2 separate regions of the Homo sapiens genome follow, and region 2 is linked to region 1. Evidence: fine-mapped expression QTL. Tissue or cell type: whole blood. Region 1 holds a variant in brackets; the other region holds the start of a gene. All regions are shown on one strand. Distances are between the middles of the regions.

Evidence for each region. PIP is the estimated chance that this variant, and not a neighbour inherited with it, causes the effect.
Region 2: LYVE1 starts here. The variant in region 1 is fine-mapped to the expression of LYVE1 in whole blood (TOPMed, PIP above 0.99).

Annotation. Positions count from the first base shown.
Region 1 is chr11:10,602,037-10,610,143 of GRCh38, forward strand. IRAG1 (inositol 1,4,5-triphosphate receptor associated 1) reads right to left here. Exons shown (of 21, transcript NM_130385.4): 11 at 7,692-7,815; 12 at 4,706-4,736; 13 at 2,369-2,509; 14 at 1,084-1,215. Among named protein-coding and RNA genes, the nearest start is that of LYVE1, 37 kb to the left of the region's middle. RefSeq lists enhancers at 4,086-4,380, 4,106-4,400. The variant T/C (reference allele first, on the strand shown) is at 4,128.
Region 2 is chr11:10,564,941-10,573,047 of GRCh38, forward strand. It overlaps LYVE1 (lymphatic vessel endothelial hyaluronan receptor 1), which reads right to left and starts at 3,725. Exons shown (of 6, transcript NM_006691.4): 1 at 3,508-3,725. The coding sequence starts at 3,592. The region is part of intron 1 of IRAG1-AS1 (IRAG1 antisense RNA 1); the gene reads left to right.

The DNA of each region.
Region 1 (8,107 bases):
GGACACACCCAGTGGCTTCGCAGGAACAGGTCCCACAGTCATGCGTGGCTGAGACCAGCTACTTCCCTAGAGTCCTCCCGTGTTGCTGCTCCCAGCTGGAGTGACTTCCTGGGCACCACTGCTGAGTCAGATGTCCTTGTCCTGAAGGACACAGGGTGGGATGGCCCAGCGACAGGTCTTTCTTTTATTTAATAGGAACTGCTCAGGGCTGCACCACCCCAGGAACCTCCTCTCATGTAACCAGAGCAGCAGGACATAGATTCATGTCATAGCAACATAATAACAACATCCAAATGCTTTACAAGTACGGCAGCAACCCTCTATGGCAGATACTGTGACCATCCTCATTTTATACTTGAAAAGACTGAAGCAGAGAAACCTCAGTAAGGGGCCCAAGGTCACACAGCGAATGAAGGTTGGAGCCAGGATTAGAACTCGGGCAATGTGCTCCTGCTACAACATGGGGGGCCGGGGCGGGGCTCTGTATGCTTCAGGACTTCAAAGTGGCCAAGAGAGAGCCAGACCTGGGCCTGTGCCCCGCTCCGCCACTAACGCTTTTACTTTCTGAGACTCTGCATCTTCATCTGGGAGACAGGATATTTATAGGGTTGCTGGGTGGATTTAATGAGACAAAGCAGGTTTTCCTAAAGTATGTTTTGTCAAATACTAGCTCCATGGGAGTTGAACAGGTATTTTTTGAGAAAAATAAAATGGAGAGCTGTGGGGGGAATTCTTCAGTTAAATACGTTTGGGAACTATGTAGGTAAAGTGAACCAGCCTTCTCCACCACAGGAGTTACCAAAGCCTTGATTAGGCCAATGTGTTAGAAATTTCCAAGAAAGAAAGATAGTATGCAGTAGTCCCCAAACTTGTGCGTCCACAGAAACCTTTTTCCACAAAGCACCTTGAGGGTTCAGTGATCTGCCAAAAATACTCTGAATAATACTGCAATGATGTGCATAGGATGCCTGGCCCAGAGGAAGCCACCTCTAAGTGGTATCTGTAGTTGCCGCTGCTTGGGTGATTGCTCTACTTTACGTAGGTGGAACAGAGTTGGCAAGACCGGGGGCTGGAGAGACTCACCTGGCGGACGGCGCCTACCACCTCAGCTCGGCTGGAGAGGCGGGCAGCCAGGCGGTGCAGGACAGCGATGTCCTCCAGCAACTTCTGGTAGGTTTCCCGGTGCTCACAGTGGTGCCAGAGTGAAGCTGAGGACTGAACAGGAGTAGGAGCATCACCTGGGGTCCTCAAATAATGTTATGGACTAAATCAGCAGTCCCCAACCTTTTCGGCCTCAGGGACTGGTTTGGAAGACAATTTTTCCACAAACCTGGTGGGGGCGATGGTTTGGGGATGAAACTCTTCCACCTCTGATCATTAGATTCTTATAAGGAGGGTACAACCTAGATCCTTCGCATGCACAGTTTACAATAGGGTTCGTGACCCTATGGGAATCGAATGCTGCTGCTGATCTGACAGGCGGCGGAGCTCAGGAGGTCATGCTCTCAGGCAGCTCACCTCCTACTGTGCAGCCTGGTTCCTAACAGGCCATGGTTTGGTACCGGTTTGCGGCCTGGCCCAGGGGATGCGGACCACTGGGCTAAATGTCTGTGCCCCCCACAAAGTCATCTGCTGACTTTTGGGGGGACATATCCTAACTCCTCAATGTGATAGTGAAGTGGGGCCTGGGCGAGGTGATTAGGTGAGGAGAGTGGAGCCCCACGAATGGAATTAGTGCTCTTATAAAAGGGACCCCAGAGAGTTCTGTTCTCTTTCCACCATGTAAGATATAATGGAAAGGTGGTAGTCTGCAAGCCAGAGATGGCCCTCACCAGAACCCGACCATGCTGGTGCCCTGATCTTGGCCTTCCAGCCTCCAGAACTATGAGAAATAAATGTTTGCCATTTAAGCCACCCAGTCTAAGGCCCTTTGTTACAGCAATTCAAACTGACTAAGACACACACCAAGCCTAGACTCAGCTCTCATGAAAGCAGCTCTGGGCCCCATCCAGGCTGAGAGAAGTGGCCTCTGCAGGGCCTGGGCCACAGTTTCTTCTGGTGCTTGGAGAAGCCCAATGTGAACACGCTATCCCTGGCGCCTGAAAGTAGGAGTCACACCCAGGCCACCCTGCCCCCTTCTGAGAAGCTCCCAAGGCTTTGGAGGACCTGTCCACAGCCCTGAGGGAACCAGGCCTTTGGGATCTCTGCCTCAGTTCCCCCCAACTCTCTGAGGAACACTGTCAGAGTCTTGGCTCAATTTTTCACTTCAGGAGACTATACTTGGTACCTGAGAGAAGCATGACACCCTGTATGGCCCTTGGGGACAGTCTCTGCTCCAGGGATTCCTCACATCAGGCTCCACAATTACCGTAATGGAAGCTTTGAAGTTTTCCAGTTCTTTCTCAGTGTTCTCCTCTGTCAGGTTGCGTTCCCTTTCAGCCTGGTTAATTCTAGATTCCAGAGTGTAGCTGTCATTTCTAAAGGCCAAGGACAGTTGCACAAACACGTTCTGTTGGGAACAAGGGTGTGAGAGAGGTGCTGGGAGGAGTTACTGCAGAGGACAAGGCTGCAGCTGTGCTCCTTGCACGAGCGTTTTGCAACGGCCCCTGGAACAGCCGCCAAAGCACCAAAGCAGCCATGTGCAAGGGAAACGCTCACTTCACAGGAAACCACAAAAAAGATGGTAAAGCAGGGACCAAGGTCCACGCTAGGCCCTTCCCAGAACCGGAGGTCCAAATGTATTCTACCAAAAAATAAGAAGAGAATAACACTTTGCTTTTTCCTGAATTTTAAGAAAATAACATCCTGTATCTGGGTTTAGATAAACTCAGGCCAGTACAGCTAATTGTGTAAGCATCTGGATTTATGCTGGGATTTATTGCATGAGGGGTTTTGGAGATTTTGCAGGAAAATACTGTATTGAAAGAAACTCCATGTGAGATTTAAGCATTGTTGACGTAAAGCAAACTTCAATCAGCATCTAGCCCGAGTATTCCAAATCCTGTATTGATAGAAGCTTTAAGTAGCTGCCAGGAGATTAAATAAGGCCAGGTATGATTCTGTTCGGTTAAGCTTTCTGGAATAAATAAATGTTTCATGCTAAAATTGCAGCCTGCATGAACAGACTTTGAAAAGATAATATTGGTCATACATGGAATTCCCAGAACAGTAGGAAACTACTAGGGAGAAGAAATAGACAGATGGACCTCACTCAGGAAGGAAGCAATGGTCTTCAATTTTACAGCCATCATCTGCCCTGAGTGGTAGCAGATTTATACCCTGCAGGGTTAGTAACCACAGGGGCTTCTGAAGTTCATGTAACATGGCCCATGGAAGGCAGTCATCTCCAGAAGAATTGAAGGTACAGAATTGACCCAATGATGATGATGAAGGCAATATTGAAAACTACTCCTTATTGAGCATCTACTATATGCCAGCACTGCTTTTCATTCTACAAATTCATGTAATCTCACAATAACCCTCTGGGGTGGGAACTGTTATACCTGTTTATGGGTAAAGAGGCCAAGACCAGAACGGTCATTAACTTGTTCAAGGTGACACGGAGTAACGGAGCCAGGATTTAACCTCAGACTGTCTGATTTGAAAGCCTGTTTTATTTCCACCATGCCGAGAGCTGTGTCCATATACATCTGCGGTCAGCATTTGGACATTAAACAAACCGCCCATGGCCCATCTTCACAAATGTCAGTGGGTAGGCTTAGAGCTCATAGCCCAGTGATAGAAATTTTCTGCCTTACCCGGCCTTGGTCAAGTCTATGAATAATGCTCAATGCTTAATTTTCTATACCTTGATTATCCCCTTAACAGCAGTGTGACACAATGAGTTCTGAATTCAGTGAGAACACTTGGATCTAGGTCTTGGTTTTGCCAACTACAGTATCTAGAAACTTGGTGTGGTTATTTACTCACTCAGTTTTCTCCTTTGTGCTGATTCCTGCTCCACCTGCTTTTCAGAGCTGCTGGTTAGGATCAGCTGAAAGGATGGCTATGCGTGTGTTATAGACTGCAAGTGCAATGCCTGTGTGCAAGTTATAGATACTACCTGTGGTAGATACTTCATACTGTCTGTCTTCCTCTGCTTATCTGGTCCACATCAGCAGTTCTCA[T/C]TGTCTCACCTCTGATAAGTTCTCTTTGTCCGCTACAGAATGAAATGCAGATTCCCCTCAGCTCACTCACAACCCCGCTGGGACAAGGAGGCCCCAGTGAGGAAACCGGAAGGCTGGATTGCTGACAGCACAGCTTCCCGGCTCCGCTGAGCTGGCATTCTTGTAGCTGAAACCCTGAGGAGGCCAGCCCCCTTTCCCACTAAACTAAAGCTTAGAACTTGAAATCTGACCATTTTTCAGTAATTTTGAAATAAATTTGATTCAATTCTGCAGCCTCCCAGCTGGTTTTGTGTATCTAAGTCGTACATTTAAAGAATATAAACAATCCTTACAGGAATGTAAAATTTCCAACTACCTTCTCCCTTTTGCCCAAATTTGTCAAAATCTTCCATGAACGGACGTGGGAATGGGGATCTCATGGTTCAAGAGGGCTGGTCATGAATGTTCACATTACCCCACAGTCACTCTTTCTCATTTTTGTCTAAAAATGTCAGAGCTAGAGTCTGGAGGAAGAAATGTTTTGAATAAGCCCAGTCAAGCACGGGCACTAAATTTCATAACACACTTGAGTCACTTACCTCAACTTCCTTTTCAGTGAGTGGAGGGGCACTGTGAAAAAGAAAACACACAATTGAACTGTGTGCAACCTAGTCAATAGACCCAAAGGTGACTCTGAATGACCAGCAGACCATGTGTTTCCAGGGGTGGAGTAAGCTGTGTTGGTGAGAAGGAAAAGATGCAATGTCCCCTTGCCTGTGCTCTGTCACCTGTGAGATACTGACTCTTACGGCACCATGACTATCTCTGTGACTTTGGACAAGTTATTTAATCTCTCTAAGCCCCAGCGTGCTCATCTGCAAAATGGGAATCATATCACCTACCTTGCAGAGGTATTATAAGCACTATATGTACTCATGTATGTATGTGTATGTGTTTGTATGCATAAATATATGGCATCCACACTCAGTGGGCTCTCGGGAAATGTGACCTTGAACTCATAGCCTTGCTGTGAGAAATAAGAAAATGCATGTGATAAGGACTTTATAACTCATACACATCTAAGTTGCCATTATAATTGTTCTGGGGATATCCACCCAGGTCTGCAAAGCCTCACCCTCCTCTGTCTCTGAGGGCTGTGACAAAGGTGCATGCGGGCCAGAGAATAAATGGTAGGAGAGAGTGACCAGGGTTCTTCTCCACAGCAAGAACTTCTGATGGCTAGAATCACAGAGTGGCAAGAAAGCCCCAGCCGACACAGAGGCATCCTTTTGAGCAGCTCCTCGTCTGTGGCGTTCCCACAGCCAGGGCTCTCCAGCTATAGGCAGTCCCTGCATCTGCATGTCCACTCGATGCTGCTGTGGCTGCTGCTCTTGCTGGTAACTAAAGCTGGCCCCATCTGAAGTCCACACAATGTAAATAATGCACAGGCCCTTTCCTGTGCTGGGGCGGGGAGGCCTGGGAGGGGTCCTACCAGCGTCACAGAACTTGGCAACAGAGCATGCCATCAATAAGCTTCTCAGGAAACACAGCTTCCTCTCTTGAACGGGTGTGAAGGGACCCCAAGAGCAAAGGTAGGGGTCAGCCATCTCTGCAGGGGGCTGGTTCTCACCCCTAGGGAATGATATGAGTGCCTTCCTGTCAGGATGAGAAGACCCCATGGCCATGAAGTCAGCGGAGTCCAGAACACGGGACAAACAGCTGCAGGGATGTTTGACACTTACAGTCCTTGTCACAACCCCACCCATCAGGCCCTTGCCTTAACTGTCATCTACAGCATACACATATGATTTAAATGATTTGGCAAAACTTGCCAAGTTTGTTTCTGACTCCTGGGTTTGTTGGGATATTATGTGAAATGCACATATTTTCATAAATTATAAACCAAACATTTTTCTATTTCAATGACTCACATTCTGCTTTTTTGCTGTAGAACACACCCACCTTATTTTTATTTTATTTATTTATTTTTGGGGACAGGGTCTCGCTCTGCTGCCCAGGCTGGAGTGCAGTGGCAGGATCACTGCAGAGGTGGCTTACTACAGCCTTGAACTCCTGGGTTCAAGCAATCCTCCTGCCTCAGCCACCAGAGTAGCTGGGACTATGGGTGCATGCCACTATACCTGGCTAATTTTTTATTTTTATTTTTTGTAGAAACAGAGTTTCACTCTGTTGTCCAGGCTGGTCTTAAACTCTTGGCCTCAAGTGATCCTCTTGCCTTGAGCCTACAAAGTGCTAGGATTACAGGTGTATGAGCCACCACACCCAGTTAGAACATACCCACCTTAAAAAAAAAGTGGGGGTCTGGGGGGAAACTCTGAGGACTCAGAGAAGTATGATTTAGGCAGAGAAGCCACATGGTATGTCTGGTGTCTGATGCAGATAACTGTGCCTTACAAATGGGCATAGGTACCCGGGGGCAGAGCTGTGAGCCTCTAAAAGGACACAGCATCTTTTTTAAGTGACTATTTGTATATCTTCTCTGAAGAAATGTCTATTTAAATCCTTTCCCCATTTTGAAAAATTGGTTATTTATCTTTTTATTGAGTGTAAGCCTTCTTTATATGCTCTAGAAACAAGTTCCTTTTCAGATAAGTGATTTGCAAATATTTCATTCTGTGGGTTGCCTTTCACTTTCTTGACACTGTTTGCAGCACAGAAGTTTTTATTTTGAGGAAGTACTATTTATTTTTAAAATCTTGTCTCTTGTGTTTTTGGTGCCATATCTAAAAAACCCAAAGACATGAAGATTTACTTATATTTTTTCTTTGAAGAGTCTTATAGTGTTCTCTCTGACATTTAGGTCTATGATCCATTATGAGTTAATTTGTGTGTTTTGTGTGAGGTAGGGGTCCAACTTCACTCTTTTGTATGTGGCTATCCAGTTGTCCCAGCACCGTTTGTTAAAATTACAATTTTTTTCCTCTGTAAATCTTACCAAAACCCTTGCATGAGTGGCTTTTTGTCATTTGTTATTTGCACATCTCAAATTATTACTTTATCACAGAGGCCTTTCCTTGACCTCCTACCCAATGCCCCACTCTCATGTCATTCTCTAGATGTGCCCTATTTTATGGTCTTTCTACCAACTTTACTCTTTCAAATCATTCATTTGGTTACTTAAATGTTATTTGTGCTTTGGGAGGCCGAGGTAGAAGGATCACTTGAGGCCAGGAGTTCAAGATTATCTTGGGCAACATAGCAAGACCCTATCTCTACAAAAAAATATTTGAAAACTTAACTAGTCATGGGTAAATGGTGTATCTGGGATTGAAACCCATGTCTCCTGGCTCAAAGCCCATTCTCTGCTGCCATGAGCTTCTGGTGACCCTTATGCCTTCATGAACTGTGCTCACCTAAGAACCCCACCTGGCCTTTGAGTTGAAAACACCCAGCCTGGCCTTTCATTATTCTTTTTGTTTCGAATGCATTATCCCTATCTAGACAATTGGACTTTGGCCCTTCTGGGTTCAAGAATTAAGACTGGTGTTCCTCTGTGTCCCACCTAGAATCCAACACAGGGGCCACTCGGTACAGGGCCTTCTGTAACCCACATCCTGATTTTACCTTCCAGGGAGACTCCTGTGGACCCGCAGTTTGCGCAGCAGCACATCAGAAATATTAGGCATGACATCTAAGCCACTCTTTGACTCTTCTTCCTCAATAGCTGGGGAGAGTTCAGAAGGAAGCCCTGAAAAAAAAGTGCTTACTTATAAAATGTCTCTTTGAAATCACAGTAGTACTGTTGGCAGCTAGCTTCAGGAGCTTTGACATTTATAAGTATCTAGTTCTATGTTAAGGGCTTTTTAATTGTTATCTTACATTATTCTCACAATGAGCTAGAACTTAGTCATCCCATTTCACATGTAGATAAGCCAAGGCTCAGCAAGGTTAAGTCACTTGCTCAAGATTACAGAACTAGCAAATGACATGGCCAGACCTCAAGGTCTACCTGCTTCAAATGTTATGTTCTTCCCTTTGCT
Region 2 (8,107 bases), 37 kb before region 1:
GAATGGCAGAAAAACTAAATGAAGAAAGCAGAATTTTAGAGTCAGACTTGGGCTTAGATCTAGCATATGTCATTTGCTAGCTCTGTGACCTTAGCCTAGATACTTCATCTCTTTAATCTTCAGCTCTTTGAGCCTCCTTGTTTATAAATTCAAGGGAGTAACAGTGTCTACTGAATAGGGTAGTGAAAGTTAAGTGAGTAAATTCTAATACAAATGTTTAGCATAGTGCCTGCCACATGGTAGGTGCTTAATAAATCCACATAACATTATCATTATCGTTAAAGCATTTTGGTTTTGGTCTGCTAATGATTGATTACCCCACAGAAGCTGAGGCTGTTGAATAGGTAAGATATGAATAATATTTCTACTCAAAATCTAATGGATTTGGGAATTCTTTTGAACCCTTTTCTCTGGGTTCTGGGATGTACAGACCTGTATAAAATTGCCAAGTTGTATTGTATTCAAATACATTATTCCTACTGGGCTTCATCCACAAACATCCATAAAAGGGCATTTAAATCTCTCAAGTAATTGCTTGTACGCAGCTCTGTGTATTGGATGCTCAGTCAAATGCTTTGACCACTTCCTAGGTTGATATCTAATGGAAGTTTCTTTTTGAAAACATGGAAGGAGCATTTCTAAGTCCTCCATATGAACCTTGCTGTGGTGGCAGATTAGGAGCACACACTCAATTATGCCTGATTCTAAAACCCCAGTTCCTCTTTTTTCCTTCTTCTTTCCCAAGAGATGGATCTTGCTATGTTGCCCAGGCTGGTCGTAAATTCCTGGGCTCAAGCAATCCTCCCACCTCAGCCTCCCTGAGTAGCTGGAACTACAGGTGTGCACCAGTATGGCCAAGCAAGAACCCCAGTTCTTTTTTTTTTTTTGAGACGGAGTTTCACTCTTGTTGCCCAGGCTGGAGTGCAATAGCGTGATCTCGGCTCACTGTAACCTCCACCTCCTGGGTTCAAGCGATTCTCCTGCCTCATTCTCCCAAGTAGCTGGGATTACAGGCATGTGCCACCAAACCTGGCTAATTTTGTACTTTTAGTAGAGACAGGGTTTCTCCATGTTGGTCAGGTTGGTCTTGAACTGCCGACCTCAGGTGATCCACCCACCTTGGCTTCCCAAAGTGCTGGGATTACAGGCGTGAGCCACTGTGCCTGGCCCTTTTTTTTTTCTTTTTTGAGACAGAGTCTCGTTCTGTCACCCAGGCTGCAGTGCAGTGGCGTGATCCATGCTCACTGCAACCTCTGCCTCCCGGGTCCAAGCAACTCTTGTGCTTCAGCCTCCTGACTAGCTGGGACTACAGACGCGAGACACCATGCCCAGCTAATTTTTGTATTTTTTGTAGAGATGGGGTTTCACCATGTTGGCCAGGCTGGTCTCAAACTCCTGACCTCAGGTGATCCACCCACCTCGGCCTCCTAAAGTGCTGAGATTACAGTCATGAACCACCGTGCCCAACCCGGCCCCCAGTTCTTAACAATGACACTGTTTTACCTTTCACAGTGCTATAAGGAAATGAACACACACAGACACACACACACCCCTAGGCTGAACTCCCTGAACACACCGTTTGCTCTGAAATTTGGCTCTTTTAGCTCATGAGCTTGCTATTGCTCAGGTCTCTTATAGCTACTTCTTTGGGAATGGATTGCAGAGGTTTATTTGTCACATTATCAATTGGTCTTACTACCCTCTCATCATATGTCATTTGTACTCTAAATACTATTATTTAGAGGAGTGATAGACTTATTCTAGGTGGATAGACTTAGCTTTGAATATTTTTTCTATTGTTAACTGGCTGTTGCGACATCAGGCAAGTCAGCATTCTCATCTGAAAATGGGGATGGATATATCTTCTTCACATGATTTTTATCAGAATTAAATTAGATAACTTGTACCTAGCAGAGGCGGGGCCCAGTAGGAAGTCAACAACATTAGTCATTTTATGCTTTCCTATTTCATTTAGGGATCAAAAGAGGGAGCTGGAATTTAAGGGAGTACTCCAGTAACTCCTTCCTTAAGATTTCTCAGGAAACAGCAAACATAGTAGAAATAGTGTATGCTTAGGAGTTAGATATAAGGATGTGGAATCAGATAATAGCATATGCTTAGGAATCAGATAGGGCTGAATTCAAACCCAATATTTATTATGTACTGCCTGCATGACATTGGGCAAGTCACTTCACCTATAAACTGTCTTTTTGAGAGGATTAAATGAAATTGTATATACACACCTAGCTCTGGATCACTATATACTTGGCCCTCAAATATAGTTCCCACCCCTATTCACTTACCTTCATCAACTACTTTATTCTGCAGTCATGGTTATGCTGACTTTTGGTTGTTTCCAAAAATGTAATTTCCCTAGAAAATCTTTTTCCCTTGCTGAGGATAGTCCAGAGTGTGATGGAGTCATTTTCAAAAAACAGTGTCCAATAGTTTGAATAATGGCAGCATTGTGGGGAAAAATAGTCTCCCCAGAGGATTTCAAAGAGGACCAAACTTATTTGAAAGTAACAGTATTTTAAAAAACTAATCATATAACTCTGACCTTTCTTATAAAATGTAATGCAACAACATATAAATCAACTCTGAATGTCTGTTTCTAGCATATTTTATATCTCAGGTCATCTTCCAGCATAGGAACACACATTTTCCTATTAAAGTGCTCAGATTTTCATTTGCCCAGAGCTGCAATGAGTGATTTGTGGTTACAATTTTTTTGCCTACAGTGCAAAATGAGGTTTCCATTTAGGCATCTCAAAAGCCCAGCGATCACTTTAAGTCATTCCTTTAGTAGACAGCCGATGGCTTAATTTTCAAACTTATATTTTTACAGATTTTTTTCAGCTAATTTGCTATTTACTGAATATTTTTTTAAAACATTGCACCTCATTCATGGTATGATAAAATCAAAATTAAAATAATTATGCTAACACTCCCAAAAAACATAAAAACAGGCCAATTTTAGTGAAAGTTACCCATTATTCCCAAGCTTAGTGATTGCTTTAAATTTTTTACAATCATGGTTTGCGTCTTCAATGAAATACTTAAAAAAAAATTATTACTTCTGGATGCAGTGGCTCATGCCTGCAATCCCAGTACTTTGGTAGGCTGAGGCAGGACGATCACTTGAAGCCAGGAGTTCAAGACCAGGCTGGGCAACAAAGCGAGATCCCATTGCTACAAAAAATTTAAATACCACCCATACAAAAAAGAGTAAAAATCAAATGGTTTCTCTTCAGTGTTTTATTTCAAAATGTCCTCATTAAAAATATTCCATAACCAAAAGTAAAAGTCCAGATGATACAAACGTAAATGTCAATCATTTTGGTGAAGTTGACAATATGGTGGTACATTTTTGGCAGAGCAGTACCACCAATTAGACCTGCTGTTGACACTGAGGGTCACCCTCATTCCCAGAAATCCATAGTCAACAGCTTAGGAGGCTTAGGACTGAAGCCTTGCTTCAGTTTGGAAATCTGGTGAGAAACCTACCTTCTGCACGCAAAGAGCCTTGGACCAGGAGCCTCGTGGTCCAGATGGAAGTGAGAAGCAACACCAGGCTGAAGCACCTGGCCATCGTGCCTACCCCTTCAGAGCCAGGGAAACACCTCAGATGGCCACTGGTGATATGAGAGGCAGATGCTCAATAACTAGTCCGGATGGAGAGTTCTGGAACTATGTTGAGGCTCACACTCACTGCTCCACTTCATAACCGAGACATCCGGATTTCCCTGCTTTCAAGCTTCTGACTTGTCAAGGTCACTGGGGGAAATGAATGACGTCCCTTGAACGCCCAGGCTGTACTTTGTGGATGGCCTTCTGGAAAATTTAGCTAATGCTGACTCAGAAAACACACAAATGAGGAAGGCAGATAGCACAGTGTGAACTGCTAAAGGTTCTCCCAATTCCCATATTCCCTGCTGTTCCTCCTCCCCCAGCAGCTCAGTTCTCACACCATTCACTGTTACTGCCTGTGGAGTCCATCGTTTATGTACTCCTAGAAACATCTCTGTCCCTAAAGGAGACTGAGCATAGGTTGTGCCTCTTTTCCTCCCGCAATCAGTGATTTTTCCACCCAGCTGTTCGGCCTTGTGATCTGCAGGGTATGATGCTGAAGCTCATGAAAGTAAATGTCCACTTAAATACTGAGTCTAGAACCTTCTGCCTTCCTTTGAGTCTCCTTTTACACATTTGAAATCTCTACACCACTACAGGTGATTCCTTTTTCAAAGAAACCAGGCACATATAAACATTCACATTTACATAACACAAGTAGGAGGGCAATTTACAAAATTAAACATTTTACACTTTCCCCAAGGATTTTTAACTTTACAATAGTAATCACCACAGGGGTCTTTTATGAAATAACTTTCTCTTAATAACTCCTTTCATATTCTGGTAGGCCAGAATTCAAGTCAGACTCCACCTTTGTTGTTCGATGAACATGAGGTTTATCTGTGCTGTGTACCAGCAGAGTGTATTCTATGTTTTTCCAGCCGGATTTTCAGTGGTTTTTGCTTCATGGTAATTATGGAGTTCTGGCTTGTAAGCAATGTCTTGGGCAAAGGTTTATGAGATTTTTCCAAAATGAATGTCTTTTATAGGAAAAGTATATGGATAACGAATTCTTTTTTATATAAGTGGTACTGGTCATAAAGTTAGATATTTGTGTGAAAAATATCAATAACAAAAAGAGAATCTGCTCTAAACAAATGCAGGGAACTTCTAAAAGACCAGGGTAACAGCCCTTACACATCTCCAATACCGACCTCATGATCTGGGTGAGCACAAGCCCCAGTTTCTCAGAAACATGCATGACTCTATCATCACAGCACCAGGGAGGCAGACAGGCAGAGTCCTGGCCTCTTCATGATTATTCTTAAAGCCTAACACCATGCCCGAAAGAGAGCTAGCTTTCTAGCATTTGTTCACTTATTGCAAAAAGAACGAAGGAAGACAGGAAGGGGAAGAATGAATCAGGGAAGGCAAGGCTTTGTGTCAAGGAGGAGAATGAGAGTCACAGTGATCACCAGCCATAGAATTTCTGGAATACCAATGAAGAGGCCTTAGAAAGGTCGCTGTGCCAGCTTTCTATTGCTGTCCAACAAATTACCATAGACTTAGCGGCTTAAACAGTACTCATTTATCATTTAACAGCTTCTATATGTCAGAGGTCTGAGTGGGCTCAGTTGGGTCCTCTGCCCTGGGTCTCACGAAACTGACATTAAGGTGCTGGCTGGGCTGGGCTCTTACCCAGAGGCTCTGGGGAAGAATCCACTTCGAAGCACATTTGGGTTGTTGGCAGAATTCATTTCTTTGAGGTTGTGGGAATGAGGTCCCTGTTTCCTTGCAGGGTGTCAGCCAGGGACCATTCTCTTCTCCTAGAGCCCTTCCATTTTCAAAGCAGCAATGACACACTGAGTCCTTCTCATACTTCTAGTCTCTCTTTCACTTCTACAGTTAGCCAGAGAAAGTTCTCTGCTCTTTTAAGAGACACGGTCTTGCTCTGTTGGCTGGAGCGCAGTGGCGCCATCGTGACTCACTGCAGCATCTACCTCCTGGGCTCAAGCAGAGCTCTCTACTTTTTTTTTTTTTTTTTTTTTTTTTGAGACAGAGTCTCACTCTGTTGCCCAGGCTGGAGTGCAGTGGCGTGATCTCAGCTCACTGCAAGCTCTGCCTCCTGGGTTCATGCCATTCCTTGCCTCAGCCTCCCGAGTATCTGGGACTACAGGCGCCCGCCACCACACCCAGCTAATTTTTTGTATTTTTGGTAGAGGCAGGGTTTCACTGTGTTAGCCAGGATGGTCTCGATCTCCTGACCTCATGATCCGCCCGCCTCAGCCTCCCAAATGCTGGGATTACAGGCGTGAGCCACCGCGCCCGGCGAGCTGTCTGCTTTTAAGGGCTCATGGGCCCACCTGGATAACCTCCCTATCTTAAGGTCAACTGTACCATCTAATGTAACACAACAAAGCTCCATACCCCTGGAGCTCCTATTCAAAGGCTCCAGGGATTAGGGTGGGACATCTTTGGAGGGCTATTCTAGAAATTCTGCCTTCCACAGTCACTTAACCTTGATTTGATTCTGATCTGCTTTCTGAGAGAAACTTCCACATCCACTGTTTTCTGCGGCCCTTTGCATCCCTCTGGGAGATTCATTTGCATATAATCTTGCTTGTCCACATTTGAAGTGGATATTAGGGAGTATGCCTTCCTTGGGAATAGCACAGCTTTTGCAGTCTGCTTCCTGCCGGCATAAGCTAAGATCCCAAAAGTTTTCTTAATTTTAAAAAAATTTTATTTTTAATCAATACATAATTATACACATGTACATTTTGATGTTTCCATACAAACAAGATGTAGTGATCAGATCAGGCTAATTAGCATATCCATCATCTGAAACATTTATCCTTTGTGTTGGGGGTGTTCAATATCTTCTCTTCCAGCTATTTGAAAATATGTTATTGTTATCTATAGTCATCCTATAGTGCCATAAAACACTATAACTTGTTCCTCCTAATTTTATGTCCTTTAACAAATCTGTCTTTTCCTCCTCTCTTCCCTTTCCAGCCACTAGTATCCTCTATTCTGTTTTTTACTTCCATGAGATCTTTTGTTAGCTTCCATGAATTAGAACATGTGGTGTTAACTTTCTGTTCATGGCTTATTTTACTTCACATAATGACCTCCATTTCCATCTATGTTGCTGTGAATGCCAGGATTTCATTTTTTACGGCTGAATACTATTCCGTTGTGTATGTACACCATGTTTTCTTTATCCACTCATCTGTTGCTGGACACATTTTAATACCATATCTTGGCGATTGTGAATACTGCTGCAATAAACATGAGGGTGCAGGTATCTCTCTGATATATTTTCTTTCCTCCTCAAAGCTGTTTCCTCACCTGAACAATGAAAGGGGTTTTTAGTCCTGGCTTGTGTTTCTTTGTAAATTCCCTCACAAAGTTAGATTTCTGCTTCCATGTGCCAATAATCATACCCCAAATCCTTTCCCAGTCATAATTCTCAAGAAGTATTTCCTGTTTCTCAGCACCATACCCCTCAAATTTAGTGGTGAATACACTAAGTTCATTTGAACTCACAAAGGGCCACATCCTTAATCTAGCCTTTGCCATAAGGCTGAGTCGATCTGTTCAACTGAGAAATTTTATTGGCTCCCACTCAAAGCTCTTTTTAGTCTGTCTGGGATTTAGAAGTGGTCAGGTTTTCTCACCCTTCAATCTTTCACATTTCTGAATACTCTATATTCTTTTTCATTTTTGCTCCCACATAGCCAATTATTTCTCCTGCCATACCTTGCCAAAGGCAGCCAAGAGAAGTTTCCATACCCCAACGCTGATTCTTTCCACCACTTATAAATAGGCTAACCATGAGATGCTTTCCAAGTTATCACAGGTAAGACTTTACTATCTTACCATCTTTCTAGCAGTTTTGTTTCTTGCCATGTAACTGGTAAGCTAGAACCTCATATTTTGGAATTTTGCTATTAAAGTACACAATTTCTGGTTCAAATGTATGCATTAGGGTAGGCTAACTGCTATAAACATCCTGGAATCTCTGTGGCTTAATATACTAAAATCTTATTTCTTATTCATGTCACAGTTCAATACTGGGAGTGCTCATTCAAAGACCCAGCTTCCGTCTAGTGGTTCTGCCATTTTCTCGGGTCTCAGTGTTCTCATCTGAATCCTCTGGCTTTGGTAGGCAGAGAAGGGAGTAAAAAAAGGTGTGAAGTATTGGGCAGGAGAGTTTATTTTTAGGGAACTAGATTTGGAAAGTCCACATTCCCCTGCAGCTAGCTGTAAGAAAGACAAAAATAGTTCAGCTGTGGAAATCAGGTTGGTTAAAAACTCAGCAGACTCAATCACAGCAAACTGTGTTAATTAAAAAAATCATAGACCAGGAAGATACAGGAAACCAGGATCAGGAATGGGGAAGGGAAGAGGAGGAACTGATCCAGCCCCTGTGAGGTAGCCCATAGTATAACGACCAAGGGTTGGGGACCTCTGACTTGGTTCTGGAATGCACTAATATATCCAAAGGCATCTAATTCTGGGTTGGGGTAAGACT